2 linked regions of the Homo sapiens genome follow. The protein of the gene in region 1 interacts with the protein of each later gene in a pairwise test. Each region holds a gene or a part of one and is shown in the gene's direction. Other genes may lie near its edges.

What was found. Proteins that work in one complex are often made in the same cells at the same time.
Region 2: the proteins of CFAP58 (region 1) and NAV2 interact in binary tests that used the Homo sapiens proteins (3 or more experiments, as listed by UniProt).

What each region holds. Positions count from the first base shown.
Region 1 is NC_000010.11:104,363,824-104,370,843, forward strand, and holds part of CFAP58 (cilia- and flagella-associated protein 58), read left to right. Parts: intron 1-909; coding exon 910-1,066; intron 1,067-1,990; coding exon 1,991-2,185; intron 2,186-4,599; coding exon 4,600-4,737; intron 4,738-7,020. UniProt on the Homo sapiens protein: Has an essential role in the assembly and organization of the sperm flagellar axoneme. Required for the elongation of the primary cilium and sperm flagellar midpiece via modulation of the Notch signaling pathway.
Region 2 is NC_000011.10:19,708,306-19,715,848, forward strand, and holds the start of NAV2 (neuron navigator 2), read left to right. Parts: upstream 1-4,531; 5' UTR 4,532-5,390; coding exon 5,391-5,657; exon of another isoform or gene 5,658-6,367; intron 6,368-7,543. UniProt on the Homo sapiens protein: Possesses 3' to 5' helicase activity and exonuclease activity. Involved in neuronal development, specifically in the development of different sensory organs.

The sequences.
Region 1 (7,020 bases):
CAGCTGCAAGAGTCTGCAGTGCAAGTTCTCCTCTGCCTTCTCAGCTCCAAGAGCTGCCTTGCTCTACATTCATTCTGCTGCAGAGGTCGTATCAGACACTGAGCTTCCAATTGCAAAGTGCTAATTCTGCAGGAAGTCATGCCAAATCATATGGAATGGCTTTTGAAATTTGGAGGTAACTGGTTTACAATTCAAATCAATGAATATTATCACATAACCTCCAAAAATGGGCATCATGAATGATTTTCCCAATTTTGTTCTTTGTAACATTTTATCTGGGCTGCATTCATTTGGGAGAAACTAATCTTTTTGGGTAAATTGATAGAAAACTAGCAATGCATATTATTTTGTTCTGTTTATGCTTTATTCTAGAGTTTATAGCTGTGATCATAGCCCTCCAGTGGATATATTAAACAAATAGTTTCCTAAATTGACATCTGCTTAGGATTAATTACCAGAGTTGACAATAGCAATATAGTCTTATCATAACAAATTCAAGTAATACAGAGGTGTGGAAAGTATCAACCCCCACAACTTTCCACCCTAAATTTCTCAGAGATAATCAGTGATATGTTTTTCTGGGCTCTGTAAAAATGTCTGTAAAACACACACACACACACACACACACACACACACACACACACACACTCTCACACGCATGAATAGACATTGTATTTTCTTAAAAATAAAAAAATAAATTATACTATGCATGTTATCATTAGTACTTCTTTCCAGTTAACATTTCACAATCTGATCCCATATCATGGCATAAAGATCTTTCTCTTTAATGTCTGAATAGTGTTAATCATTGACCTGACATCTTTCCCATGAAAATGAACTCAGAGAATGATATGAAGGACCCCTGAGCAGATGGCCATTTAGTCTGACTCCTGTGTTCTTCCTTTTTAGCATCCGAGATTTACTGAGGTTCAAAGAAGAAGTGACAAAGGAGAGAGACCAGCTCTTATCAGAAGTGGTAAAATTACGAGAATCCCTAGCTCAGACCACTGAACAGCAGCAGGAAACAGAGCGATCAAAAGAGGAGGCTGAACATGCCATCAGTCAGGTCTGCCATGGAGGGCAAGAAGAAGGAATATTTCCTTCCAGAGGATGTTTGTCCCTCCACAGTCTCTATTCCCATCTTGCTCCTTTCTCAAATTTACCCCCTAGCGCCCAAATGAAACATCCTCAGTTCTGCTTGTTTCTTTAGTTTGTTCTCTTGAGAGGAGCTTTACTTGATTTGAACGACTTGAATTGTTCTTTCTCTGCATTCTCTGTCTGAGAAGTCACTGAGGCGGGCACTCCCTACTTACAATTCTGGCTCAAAAAGATGATCTCCATGAAGGCCAGGGGGCCCAACATCTGGGGGTGGTGGAAGTAGTTTCTTTGGCCCTACTTATTTATTTATTTATTTTTATTAGAAAGCCATTTAGCAGACTTCTTCTGAACACTTTTACATAAAGCCAGAAGTCAAATAGGTCATACACAATGTGCAGTCTCCAAGAGAAAAACATGAGACTTCTTTGAACATGAGATAAGAAAAAGGCTTTTCATAGCATTTGGACATCAAGATAAACCTATAATGCTCTCTTTAGCAATATCCAGGGTCATGTAAAACACAATTTTATACTTAGGGTAGCTAGCCACATTTTATTTAGTCCCTATTGATAAAGAACGGGATGAATTCTTTCCATGTTTAACGCCCCTAGAACTCTGAGCTTCCATATGTATTTGATTTTATACCACACTTTGTGGATTTGTTGCCCACCATCAGGGTAGTCATTTGATTTCAAGGCCCCAAGAAACAGTATAGAATATTCCTGAAAAGTTTGAACACTGGGGCTCAAGGATGTCTGCCCTATAGGGGAAATGCTACTGCAAAGTGCTGCCTTGACAATCACAGACCTGAGAGAGGAGGGGGCTTGGCTGGCTGAGACCTGCCATGGTCAGGGCTCATCTCTTTCTCTCTTGTCCTTTCCGCAACCTCTAGTTCCAACAAGAAATCCAGCAACGTCAGAACGAAGCTTCCCGGGAGTTCCGGAAGAAGGAAAAACTAGAGAAAGAGCTCAAGCAGATTCAGGCAGACATGGACAGCAGGCAGACAGAAATAAAAGCCCTGCAGCAGTATGTGCAGAAGAGCAAGGAGGAGCTTCAGAAGCTGGAGCAGCAGCTGAAGGAGCAGAAGGTGAGTTGGGTGTGGGTCTTCGCAAAAAACCAAGAAAAACCCAGAATGGCACCTTTATTCACCCTTTTGTGCATTTTGAATTCTCTTGGAAAGCAGCAAATTCCCTTCACTACTCGTGCTGATGATGTAAAACTTAGCACTGCAATTTGGTCTTTGAATGGCTCTTATGAGGTAGTTATGCCCCCCCTTTTAAATTTCCCAGCTCTAACAGGTTAATAAGTTTCTTTTTAACCTTCTATTGATCTATACTACACATATAGACAAGTGTATATGTCACAAGTGGACAGCTTGATGAATTTTCACCACTCAACCGCATCTTGGTCACCTGCTCCCAGCCAGAGAAACAGAACATTACCAGCACCCCCAGAAGCCCTTTTGTGCTCCCTCTTAGTCCTTCTCCCCCTAAAATACCATCTCTATCCTGAATTCTAAGCAGAGTTTGGTTTCGCCTGTCTTTATACTTTACAGAAATAAAATATTACAGGATATATTCTTTGTGTCTAACTTCTGCTATATTCTGTTTGTGAGATATATTCATGTTGTTGCCATGTAGTTATAGACTTGTGATGCCCAATATGGTAACCCTTAGCAACAAGTGGCTATTTAAATTCAACTTTATTAAAATGAAATTAAATTAAAAATTCATTTCCTTGGTTGTACCAGCATCATTTCAAGTACTCAGTAGCCACAGATGGCTAGTTGATGCCATATTAGCACAGACAGAGAACATTTACATCACTGCAGAAAGCTCTATTGGACAGAGCTCAGTAGAGCATGAGCTCTCATTGCTGTGCAGTATTCCACTGGGTGAGTATAACAATTTATTTTTAACAGTTTTATTTTTATTTATTTATTTTTATTTTTATTTTTATTTTTTTTGAGATGGAGTCTCTCTGTCACCCAGGCTGGAGCACAGTGGCATGATCTCAGCTCACTGCAACCTCCACCTCCTGGGTTGAAGCGATTCTCCTGCCTCAGTCTCCCGAGTAACTGGAGTCTGCCACCATGCCTGGCTAATTTTTATATTTTTAGTAGAGACAGGGTGTCACCATGTTGGCCAGGCTGGTCTCGAGCTCCTGACCTCAAGTAATCCAACTGTCTTGGCCTCCCAGGGTGCTAGGATTACAGGCATGAGCCACCGCACCCAGCCGACAGGTTTATTTTTAAGTTATTTTCAAGTTTAGCAAACTAGGGTCAGTCTTTATGTATTTTTAATATGGTACTGTTTTTAACACTTCCTCTATTATAGCAGTTTAGGGTGACACAAGTATTAGTAATTGTATTATGTTTTCTCTCATTTCTTAAAGAAGCAATTCATATAATTGAAAAGTCTTTTCTTAAATATGTTTTTCCTCAGGAAGCTTGTTTCCAAAGAATTGTCAAGCCATATAGCAGTTTTATACTCAAAAATAGATATAAATATACTTTTTTTTTGTCCGTTGCTCTATTAATTTTGTATAAAGTCAGAAGTCAAATAGATAATTCACAGTGTGCCGCCTCCAGCAGAAAAACATGAGACTTCTTTGAGCATGAAACATAAGAGAGGCTTTTGGACATCAGGATAAAAACTATTCTCCTATGAAACACAATTTCATTTTTAGCATAACTGGTTACATTTTATTTAGTCCCTATTGATGGAGAATTAGCTGGATTCTTTTCATGCTTAATTTTTGTGTGCATGGAAGTTATATTTTGGAGACATTACCTAAACTGGCTTTCTATTTTTATCCTGCAATTCATTTGCTATCCCTCCACCTCCTCAATATTCCCCCAATAGAAATGAGCCCCCAAGATATAATCCTTTGTTTTTATAAAACCATATCTGCTTAGGATAGTCAAGGCAGGGAAGAGGAAAATCTGGCTGACACTGCACTCAAGCAGATATAAATCACTTTGCTGCTGTTCCACGGTTTCGACTTAAGTTAGATTAAAAGAAAATTGTCTCTGTGTTGGTGTTAGTGAACAGTTCTGTTGACAAAAATGTTGTAGGCATGTTAATGCAGGATTTGCTTCTGAAGATGTAGCTTCCGAGCCCCACAGCTTATAAAATCCGTTTGAATCTCTAGCTCATTTGCAATGATTATAGCAATTGTTGCATATGCGAAGCCTGCCAAATGGCAAACAGGCATTAAAATATTTATCCACCACCTGTGAACAAGACTTCCCAAGGCTCTCAGAAAAAAAATTATGCTCACTGTGTTATTCATTAGAAGGCATCATTTTCCTCAACCGTTTAACATTCATCATATTTGAGTGCGTTAGTGCTTTCATCGGGAATAAAGAACAATTTCTACAAAGACAAAAACTCAGGGTTGCTGTTATCTTCCCAGGAGGTTTGTGGGGCCCCCTGTGTGTATATCCAACTATTGTAATCAGATTAAAAAGCATTAACCAGCTCATTCCATCCCTTTCAGATATTGAATGAGAGAGCTGCAAAGGAACTCGAGCAATTTCAGATGAGAAATGCTAAACTTCAGCAAGAGAATGAACAGCACAGTTTGGTCTGTGAGCAGCTATCCCAGGAAAACCAACAGAAGGCGTTGGAGCTCAAAGTAAACACCAAGTTACATGTCTGTTCCCTAGCTCTTTCTTCCTAACACAGGTTTGCCTTGGCAATTGGAGCCCTCAGTTGGAGAGCCTGTGTTGGCTCTACTGAGTACATTGACACATCAGAGGCAGGTGCAAGCCTATAGTGATTGCTTTAGGCCCAGAAGCAGAGTTTGATGACTTCCATTCTTGTAAAATTGCAAACCTGATTATTGATCATATGGTTATGCAAATGGTTTCCAAAGTGAGCTCAGATGTCTATCTCTGTAACTAGCTTTGCAAGAAACCAGTTGCTCAAATCTAGCAATCCATTCACACGTGTGAACAGCAAAAAATTCAGATTATAGTTACTGCTTGTTGGAGAAGGTGGGATGGAATGGCTGGGAGAGAGACTGATACTACCTAGGGTCTACTTACAGGATTGTGGAATCATGATTTTCACTTCTGTCCAATGTATATTTTGAGACAGATTTCCTATTCTTCTCCTTGCTCTCATTGAAGAGTGCTTGCAAATTCTTCAATTTAGATAGTTTAGATAACAGTTTATACTCCGATGTATATTGTATGCCTACCTGCTTAACAGAGCAGCTTTACGTTTATCACTTTAATTCTGAAAAAAATCCATATTCCCTACTCTGGTTATGTTAGAATACTGGATGTAAAAAGAGTGGCCTAGCAAGAATAATACATAGATTTGGGCAGAGAACCATAACATTTTTATATCACAAACTCTTTTGAGAATCTGATGGTAATATACACATGCACACACTTATTTGCATATCTTACATCTTGTGTTGCATGCATCCCAGAAATAGGAGAGGTTTCCAGGATTTTTCTGAAGTCTAACTGTGGGGTCTGGATTAATAACCACTGAATTAAAACATCTTAGAAATGGAGAGGCCTTAACATCGACTAATTTGAACCCTATAGGGTCTGAGGGTCTGACGCTGAAAAACTTTTAAAACAGCCCAGAATGGGTAGACTTGAAACCATTCTTTATGAGAATGCAATAAGTTAAAGAAGAGATGAGATGACTACTTAAGTCAAAATAATGTATTAGCCCCTAAGGTAAAATTAAAGGAAAAAGACTCATGCCATTAATTCTTTCCCTTGATAATATGAATGGGGCATTTTGAAAGATGGACTATTTCTGTTATCAGATCATGAGCCTAATGGGATTCAGCCTCTAGCAATAATCTGAGGATAACATGAACAGCTAATTTTGGTCTCTTCATTGTTATGAGCTGAGATAATTGCTAACCTTTGTTCGCAAAAGAATCCCAGCTGCTTTTCCAGTCACTTCTAATGGCAAAATTTTAAAAAAGTGAATTTAATTAAAATTTCCAAAATCTGGAAAGCTTGAAGTCTTTAGACAAAAATCGGGTGCTTTTCTTTGCTAGGATTATTTTTGGGGACTGTTTGCCATTTTATAGACTGCCTATTCATACTATGAAATATCTGGTCCACTTATCCATATGTATACCTAGAGACCAACATACTTTGAGGAAGGAGGACCCCTTCTCTAGTGTATATAATTGACCTACAATGGCCCAGTGAGTCCAAAAGAGTGTTTGAATATTTTATATATGTTAATAACCATCTGAGAGAGATCACTTCACAAGTTCATGAAAATTGCTAATCAAATACTGTATACAAAATTCACATATTTTTGATACGTACAACTTAGCATTCTTATCTTATTTGATTCTACAGTTAGATGGTGTATTAGTTCATTTTCACGCTGCTGATAAAGACACACCCAAGACTGGGCAATTTACAAAAGAAAGAGATTTAATTGGACTTACAGTTCCACATGGCTGGGGAGGCCTCACAATCATGGTGGAAGGCAAGGAGGAACAAATCACATCTTATGTGGATGGCAGCAGGCAAAGGGAGAGAACTTGTGTAGGGGAACTCCTCTTTTTAAAACCATCAGATCTCGTGAGACTTAGTTTGTATCAGGAGAATAGCATGGGAAAGACCTGCCCCCGTGATTCAATTACCTCCCATCGGGTTCCTCCCACAACACGTGGGAATTCAAGGTGAGATTTGGGTGGGGACACAGCCAAACCATTTCAGATGGTAACTTGAAACAAAATTTTTCAGTGTTTTTATTATTTTTAGTTTATAAAAATATAAAACATAACCACATATTTTATTCAGTGGACAGTTTTTCAATTTCTCTCAAAACCAAATTGTGTGTGCTTGATTTAATCTCACAGAACAACTTTAAAATGCCATGGGAAGAATTTCCTTTTATTGGTTCTGAGTTTACCATCATCCAGTTC
Region 2 (7,543 bases), on another chromosome or scaffold:
CCATTTGTAGAAAATTAAGGAAAAGTGCATTTTTTTTACTCCCAAATAAACTCATAAATATTTTGCTTTTTATATTATTCAAGAAACTTTGCAACATTTCCCCTCATCATGTATAATCTAGGGTCTCCAAAAGGCTGTAGACTTTTCCCCCCAAGATCCCTGCATTTTTTTGTGACAGGCTGGGCCTTAGATGTTCCAGGCTCTTCACCGGACTGTCTTCTTGGGAGGTCAGGCCAACAGGGGTCTTTAACTAAGATGAAGGATGGGTTGATGGAACTGGTCACTCACAGGTCAGGTCTGAAGCCCAATTCACACTCAACTAATCACAAGTGGCTGACGTTGAGGAGCAGAGAGGGGTGCAGCTGGCACTTCCTGATCTGAGGATGGCTCTTAGAACCAGGGAACTATCCAGTCTCTTAGGATGATTCAGTGGACCTGAGAGCTTTGATAATACGTTTCAATTTGGCCTATCACTGACATTTGGGTGATTCTGCAAGTTCTGAGCCAGAAGAAAAATAAAGAATGGTTGTCAAAGTTGGAATTTAAAATGGTGGGCCATTTCAACTTGGCATACTTGTCCATAATGCATATAGTAAAAAAAAAAAAAAAAGAAAAAAAGAAAAAAGTTATTTTAATACCTGGATAGTGTATTCTTTCCAGAGCAGCTTGCCATTCTCCAAACCAGTGACTTGCGTTAGCCTCCAATGCTTGCAAAACATTGATTTAAAATGACGTTTTTCATGTTAACACAGTATCAGTGTGGAAGGAGTAAACTTATAGGCCGTTTTTATAATTTGAGATTATCTTATTTAAGTAAGAAACTTATAATTATCTCATTTATCCTAGGAGAAAAAATAGCTTCCCCCCGCCCCACCCTTGTCTGGTTATTATGATAAATTATTTTGCTTTAAATAAGAAAAATGAACGTTTATAGAAAATATCTAAAAGGAGATAGGGCCAGGCACGGTGGCTCACGCCTGTAATCCCAGCACTTTGGGAGGCCAAGGCGGGCGAATCACGAGGTCAGGAGGTCGAGACCATCCTGGCTAACATGGTGGAACCCCGTCTCTACTAAAAATACAAAAAATTAGCTGGGCATGGTGGCGGGTGCCTGTAGTCCCAGCTACTCAGGAGGCTGAGGCAGGAGAATGGGGTGTACCCAGGAGGCGGAGCTTCCTGGGTAGTGAGCCAATATCGTGCCACTGCACTCCAGCCTGGGCAGCAGAGTGAGACTCCGTCTCAAAAAAAAAAAAAAAAAAAAAAAGATATAAAAGGAGATGAATCTTTGGGAGGCCAAGGCAGGTGGATCACTTGAGGTCTGGAGTTCCAGACCAGCCTGACCAATATGACGAAACCCCGTCTCTACTAAAAATACAAAAATTAGCCGGGTGTGGTGGCATGCGCCTGTAATCCCAGCTGCAGTGAGCCAAGATCGCGCCATTGCACTCCAGCTTCCAGCCTGGGAAATTAGAGCAAAACTCGGTCACAAAAAAAAAGGAGATAAATAATGCTCCAGGAAAAAGCAAATAGAATTACTAAAGGGAAGAAGAGGCAGGAAAAGAAAGAAATTTGGAAACAGACTAAAAGATTCACTTGTCCTCAAGTGAAAGATCTTTCATCAAGAAAAATGAAGAATTATCAGAATTTAGTTATATAAAACACACAGGGTTAAGGGAAATGCTCATGTTTACCAATCCTAGAACATTAGAAATACTTTAAAAGAAATACTGTTGTTCATATTTATGCATATTTGAGGGTCTCAGAACCCCGAAATGACCTTGGCAGTAAATACAATTTAAACAGGAAACCAAAGATGGCAAATACATAATATGTATTTCACTATTTCCATTTATATACCCATAGCAGACATTATCAAGTGATCAGGCGGCTATTTCCAACTAGATGGATGCACTCTGAGATCCTTTTCAGTAGATGGCCCTTAAGATGAAATCCTCCTGCTGTCTGTGCTACTCAAAGCGTGATCTTTAGAACACCAGCATGTGCATGACATGAGAACTTACTCGGAAAGCAGAATCTCAGCCCCATTCTAGACCAACTGAATCTGAATCTGTATTTTAGCAAGATCCCCAGTGATTCTTAGGCATATTAAGGTTTAAGAAGTTCTGGAGATGCACTGAATGCATGATATATTCATTAGGGCAGAATATCTCAAGTTTTAGTATGCATCATAATCACTAGGTTGAACACTGTTGAAACACAGATTGCTGGGCCCCATCCCCAGGGCTTTTGATTCAATAGGTCTGGGTGGAGCTTTCAAACAAGTTTCCAGGTAATGCTTCTGCAGCTCCAGGGACCACACTTTGAGAACCACTGCATTAGGGCCATGGGAATACTTTGGAATATCTCCCTGATCTTTAGAAGCTGAAGATTGTGATATCTTTCCACAAATCTTGGTACACTGGTCAGAACTAGAATTCAGGGCAGGCAAAAGAGTCCCAAGGTTTATAGCATAATATTTCGTATGTCCTTATGTTCCTAAATCTAAAAGACAATCTCTCCTTCTTCTAGCATCATTCAATCATTCATTCAGTATAAATGTTGGGTAGCTATTCTGTCCACAGCTTTATGCTCCATACTGAGAAGATCTAAAGAAAGTTAAAACACAGCTCCTAATTCCAAGATGTTTATTCTCTAAGATGAAAATGAATGCATGAAACAATAAATAACAGGTTAAATAATGGGAGACAATAGTACGGGAGGTGGCATCAGATGGCAAAGGGCAAAGTGTTAAGTAAGTAGCATGAATGATGTGTGACTTGATTTCAGAGAGAGGGAGGATAACTGAAACAGACATAGACAGGGCCGTGCATTTCAGCCTAACTAGAGTAGAAAGTTGCTACCTAGAATGGCTAAGAAGGTGCCTTCTCATTTCTTAATGCTTCAGAGGTTAAGACTTTGATGTTTCCTCTGGTCTGAGATCTTTGTCACTTTGGGCCACTATAACAAAAATACCATAAACAGGATGGCTTAAACAACAAACATTTATTTCTTACAGTACTAGAGGCTGGAAGTCTGAGACTAGGATGCCAACACGGTATCAGATTCTTGGTAAGGGCCCTCTTCCTGGTCCACAGAAGACTGCCTTCTGTGTCCTCACAAGGCAGTAAGAAAGCATCTCTCTCCTGTCTCTTCTAATAAGAGTGCTAATCCTATCATGAGGGCTCCACTGTCTTGACCTTATTACCTCCTAAAGTTCCCCACCTCCTAATACCATCACACTGGGGATTACGGGTTTAACATGAATTCCAGGGGGACAGAGTTAATAGCATCTGAGTTATTCTAAATCAATGCTATCAGCACTGAAGATCAGGCTATAGGGTGGGCACAAAGTGTCCTGGAAACAAAGAAGAAAGACAAATAGTTTATAAACAGAGATGACTTTGGGGGAAAGCAGCAGTAATTTAACAACAGGGAAAATAAAGCCCAGCTTTTATTGGTCTCTTACATTGCCAGGTACTTGTGCTAAATGACTGCCATGCACCAACCATCTCATTTAATCCAAACAACAGCTCATTAGGTAAATGTCGTCAAGCCTCCACCTTACTACATGTGAAAACAGAAGCTTTATAAGCATGCATGTAAGCTTAAATAACTTGCCCACTTCTAATCCAAGCAGTTCTACAGGGTGGGAGGCTCCTCATTCATAAATCGCGAAGGCTGGCCTGCCTGATCATCTCTCAGTTTCCTTCTTATTCTCATCCACTTTCAGTCAGCGAGGAAACCACAGAGCAACCCAAACAGCGAATTCGAGTCGAGGAACCTGTTGGGGCCAGTGCGTCCCAGGCGCGGACAGGGAGGGGCTCCATGAAACGCAGCAAGGTTTGGCCAGAGCCTGCCGGGGTCATGGAGCCTCTCCCGGCTTCTTCAGGCCACTCTAATTACAGAGTCTGTGGTAGGTTGCGTGGAGGAGCTGTCTCGGGGCGGGAAGCTTCCCTGCGTATTGTATTTGCCTATAAATACTTCAAATAGTTAAGTGAAATGTGCAGCCTTTGAAAACTGGAGAGGAAGCCGTTGGGAGGCCCCCCGCCCAGCCGGCCTGGAAGAGCAGGCAGAGAAATGGCTGGCGCGCTCTTAAAGCGGGAGACGAGCTTCGGCCCTGCCCAAGCCAGATGGGGGCAGCGAGGCTGCGGGCGTGACTCCGGAAGACTCAAACCGTTAAGGTGACCGGAGCAATTTGAAAAAGGAAACAAACTTCCCTCGAGCCGTGCCCGCGTGGCTCTGGGGCGGACGGTTGCGTTCGAAAGGGCATTTTTCAAAAGAAGGGTTTCAGGAACGCAGGGGTGTGGGCCCCCCGGGAGGCGCGCGGCCGGGGCAGTGCCGCAAAGCGGCCACCAGCCCGCTTTGTACTCGCGGCCAAGCGCGGCCCCAGAGTTTCGGCGGCGGCCAGAGTTTAGGCCACACCCTCTTTGCAGTGAGACCCGCGGCCGCTGATTGGCGCACCGTGGACCAATGGGCGCGCCGGGGCGGCCCCGGCTGTCAGCGCGCGCCGCAGCAGCGCCGGCAGCAGCCTGTCCTCCCCTGCGCTGAGCCCCGCAGCCAGCGCAGCCTTCCCGGGAAGCGCGGCGGCCGCTCCCGAGCGCAGCCCTGCCCGGCCCGCCAGCCGCGCGTCCCGGCGCCCGCGCCCCACGGCCACAGCCTTGCCTCTATCTAGCTCACGGAGCATGTGCAGACCCGCAGGCGCTAAGGTGCTCTCAGTCCGGGGGCCTTCTGGGCAGCGGTGACTGTCACCCCAAGAGAGACCTTTCGGGGGCTCTTGCCGCACCTCTGCTGCGTCGCGGGTGACACTGCGGTGCTCGCGAGCAGGGTGGCAGCTGCCTCTCGGTGGAGACGTCTTGGGACCCTTGCGCCCTTCTTCTCTCCTTCCTTCGCTGCTGTCTCCTTTCCTTCCTTGGCTGCTCGCTCTTTCTCTCGCCGGCTCAGACCCGTAGCCTCCGGAACGGGACTCGTGGGTCGCCGCCGCCTCTGTCTCTTCCAAAGGGGCCTCCTCACTTCGGAGATGCAGTGACAAGTTAATATGGGCGTCCAAGCCTCTGTTTCCCAGGAGGAAATTTGCAAGAGGCGGCAGCCCCTGAGCGCCCAGAGCTCTTGAAAGGCCACCCAGGAGAGGTGTGAGACCCGGCGGCAGCATCCGTCCAGGTGGGACCCGCTGAGCGCCGTGGCCAGTCCCCCATTCCCATCCCGGCACCCCAAAGGCGCGCTCGCCCGATTGCTTCGAGTTCCCCGACCTGGGGATTTTTTTTTTAGCCGCTGGTGGTGGGCGCCTCGTGGGCTAAGGCCCGGCGCCTGCTCTGCTACCCGCGCTGCCTTTAGCGGTCGCCCCCGCCGCCGCTGCCAGGGACGTGCTGGGAAAGCCCAAGCCCCGGGAGAAGATGCCGGCCATCCTGGTCGCCTCCAAAATGAAGTCGGGACTGCCCAAACCCGTGCACAGCGCCGCGCCCATCCTGCACGTGCCCCCGGCCCGGGCGGGCCCCCAGCCCTGCTACCTGAAGTTGGGAAGCAAGGTGGAGGTGAGCAAGACCACCTATCCTAGCCAGATCCCCCTGAAATCGCAGGTGCTGCAGGGGCTGCAGGAGCCAGCGGGGGAGGGGCTCCCGCTGCGGAAGAGCGGCTCGGTGGAAAACGGGTTCGATACCCAGGTGAGAGATGCCGTTTGCCGGGGTACTGTTCTGGAAGGATGGATGAATAGTTCTTTCGGGATGGTGTGGGAGAAAGGGCTGGATGGGAGAAGGGTCTACCATGTGGCCAGGGAAGGGAACCATTCCCCTTAGGCCGGCAGGTTGGGGGATGCGCGAGGAGAGTGGGCCGGCCGGTGGGTGTGGCCCGGGTGCCGGAGGTTTGCCTTAAGAGCTCTTCGAGACCTGGGATGGCGGGCACGTCTGCAGCATCTTCCTGGGGAGGAGGAAAGGTCGGGATGTTCTCAAAAAACGTGTGCATCGCTGGAAATGTGAGGTCCTGCATGTTGAGGTCTTGGCCCCAAGAAGCCAGTATCCGCAGCAGCAGCTGTGTGTCTGTCTGGCGGTTCCGCAGAGATTCTGTTCCGGACAAGGAATGATCTAAGGCCCCATTGGGTTCGACGCCCCCTAGCCTGGCTGTAAGATCCAGGAAGAAAAGGGGATCGCGGGTGGCAGTGAACCTGCTCTTCCCTTGGCTTGAAGATGACCTGTCCCTGCCCCATCCTGCGGGGTGACGGGATTCCGGGCAAGGTGCTGGGACTGCGGTACTAGTGCACCAGCTGAGGCCGGCAGCTGGAGACTCCTAGCGCCTTGGCTGGCTGTTGCGGTGGGGGTGGGGGTGGAGGTGGCTGCCTCAGAATGGCGGCCGAAGCTAAGCCCCTCCTTCCTGGGTGGTAGATCCTGGTGTTGGTAGCCCGAGTGACGGGGCGTGGGGATGGGAGATGGCTTGAAGAGAATTGGTGACTCCTACCTTTCCAGACAGAGCCTGCATCCAGACAAGCCCTGGCCGTGCAATCTCTTTTACAGAAATTAGCAAGGGCCAATCAGGTTCTCTTGGTCCTCCCCGCTCCATTTCCCCCTTCTTCTGGTAGGAGGGGGCTATATTTTCTTGGCAGTCAGTCAGCAGGGACTTTTGGGGACAGGCCGACCTGACGGATGTGACTGTCCGGTTAGGAGAGGCGGGAAGCCAGAGGGGAGGTGGTTTGGGGCTGGTGTCAGGAAAATGGCAACAGACCAGCTGACCTTTTTGGCACATACTTCCCTGCTGACACCATCTCCACCTTCTCCTGGAGCTTTCTCTGATCAGAGGCTAGAGCTCAACACGTTCCTAGGCTTTCTGATGCGGGAACTGGAGCTGAAGCTAATTGTAAGCAGACTTTTGGAACTCTGGGCTGGAGAAGGCCCTCAAAGCAGATTAAGCTCCCACACCAGGCTGATAAGCATGCCCCTTGCTGCTGCACTTGCTAAACATTTTTGGAAGCTGACAGGTTTGAGTGATGGTGTGTGGGAGGAAGGCAAGATTTCCTCCAGTGCTCCGGGGGCCTGCCTCTGTGAGGGTTTTGTGCTCTGCTCTTCTTCTGTTGTTACGTACAGGATTTGTCCAGTGGGCTCTGCCATGGGGGTGAGCACCAGGGTACACTTCTGCATGGGGTTTCCCTTCATCCATGGACTTGGGGTTTATGAGGTGTAGTGGGCAGTCGGTGGGAGGTCAGTACAGTGACTCGGGACTGGAGGTGACACATACCCTCGAGCCTGATGAGGAGCACCCGAGGAATGAGAGGGAAAGTCCATGCTGGGATTGTTCATATCCAGGCAGCTGTTCTGCCTTTGCCCGTTTGACCCTTCATTTAACAAACATTGTCAGAGGACTGGCAGTGCATAGGCTCTGGAAAGGTGATTCATCACCCTGTCCGTGAAAAAAAATGTTCTTCAGCTTCTCTCTGAGGGGCTGGAACAGTCCACTTCCCTCAAGACTTTGCTTCCCTCTTTTGCCCTTGGTCCATAATCCCCCCATTTCACCTCTCTCGCCCTCAATGGGCCCTTGTGTACTGATGGTGAACATAGTTTGG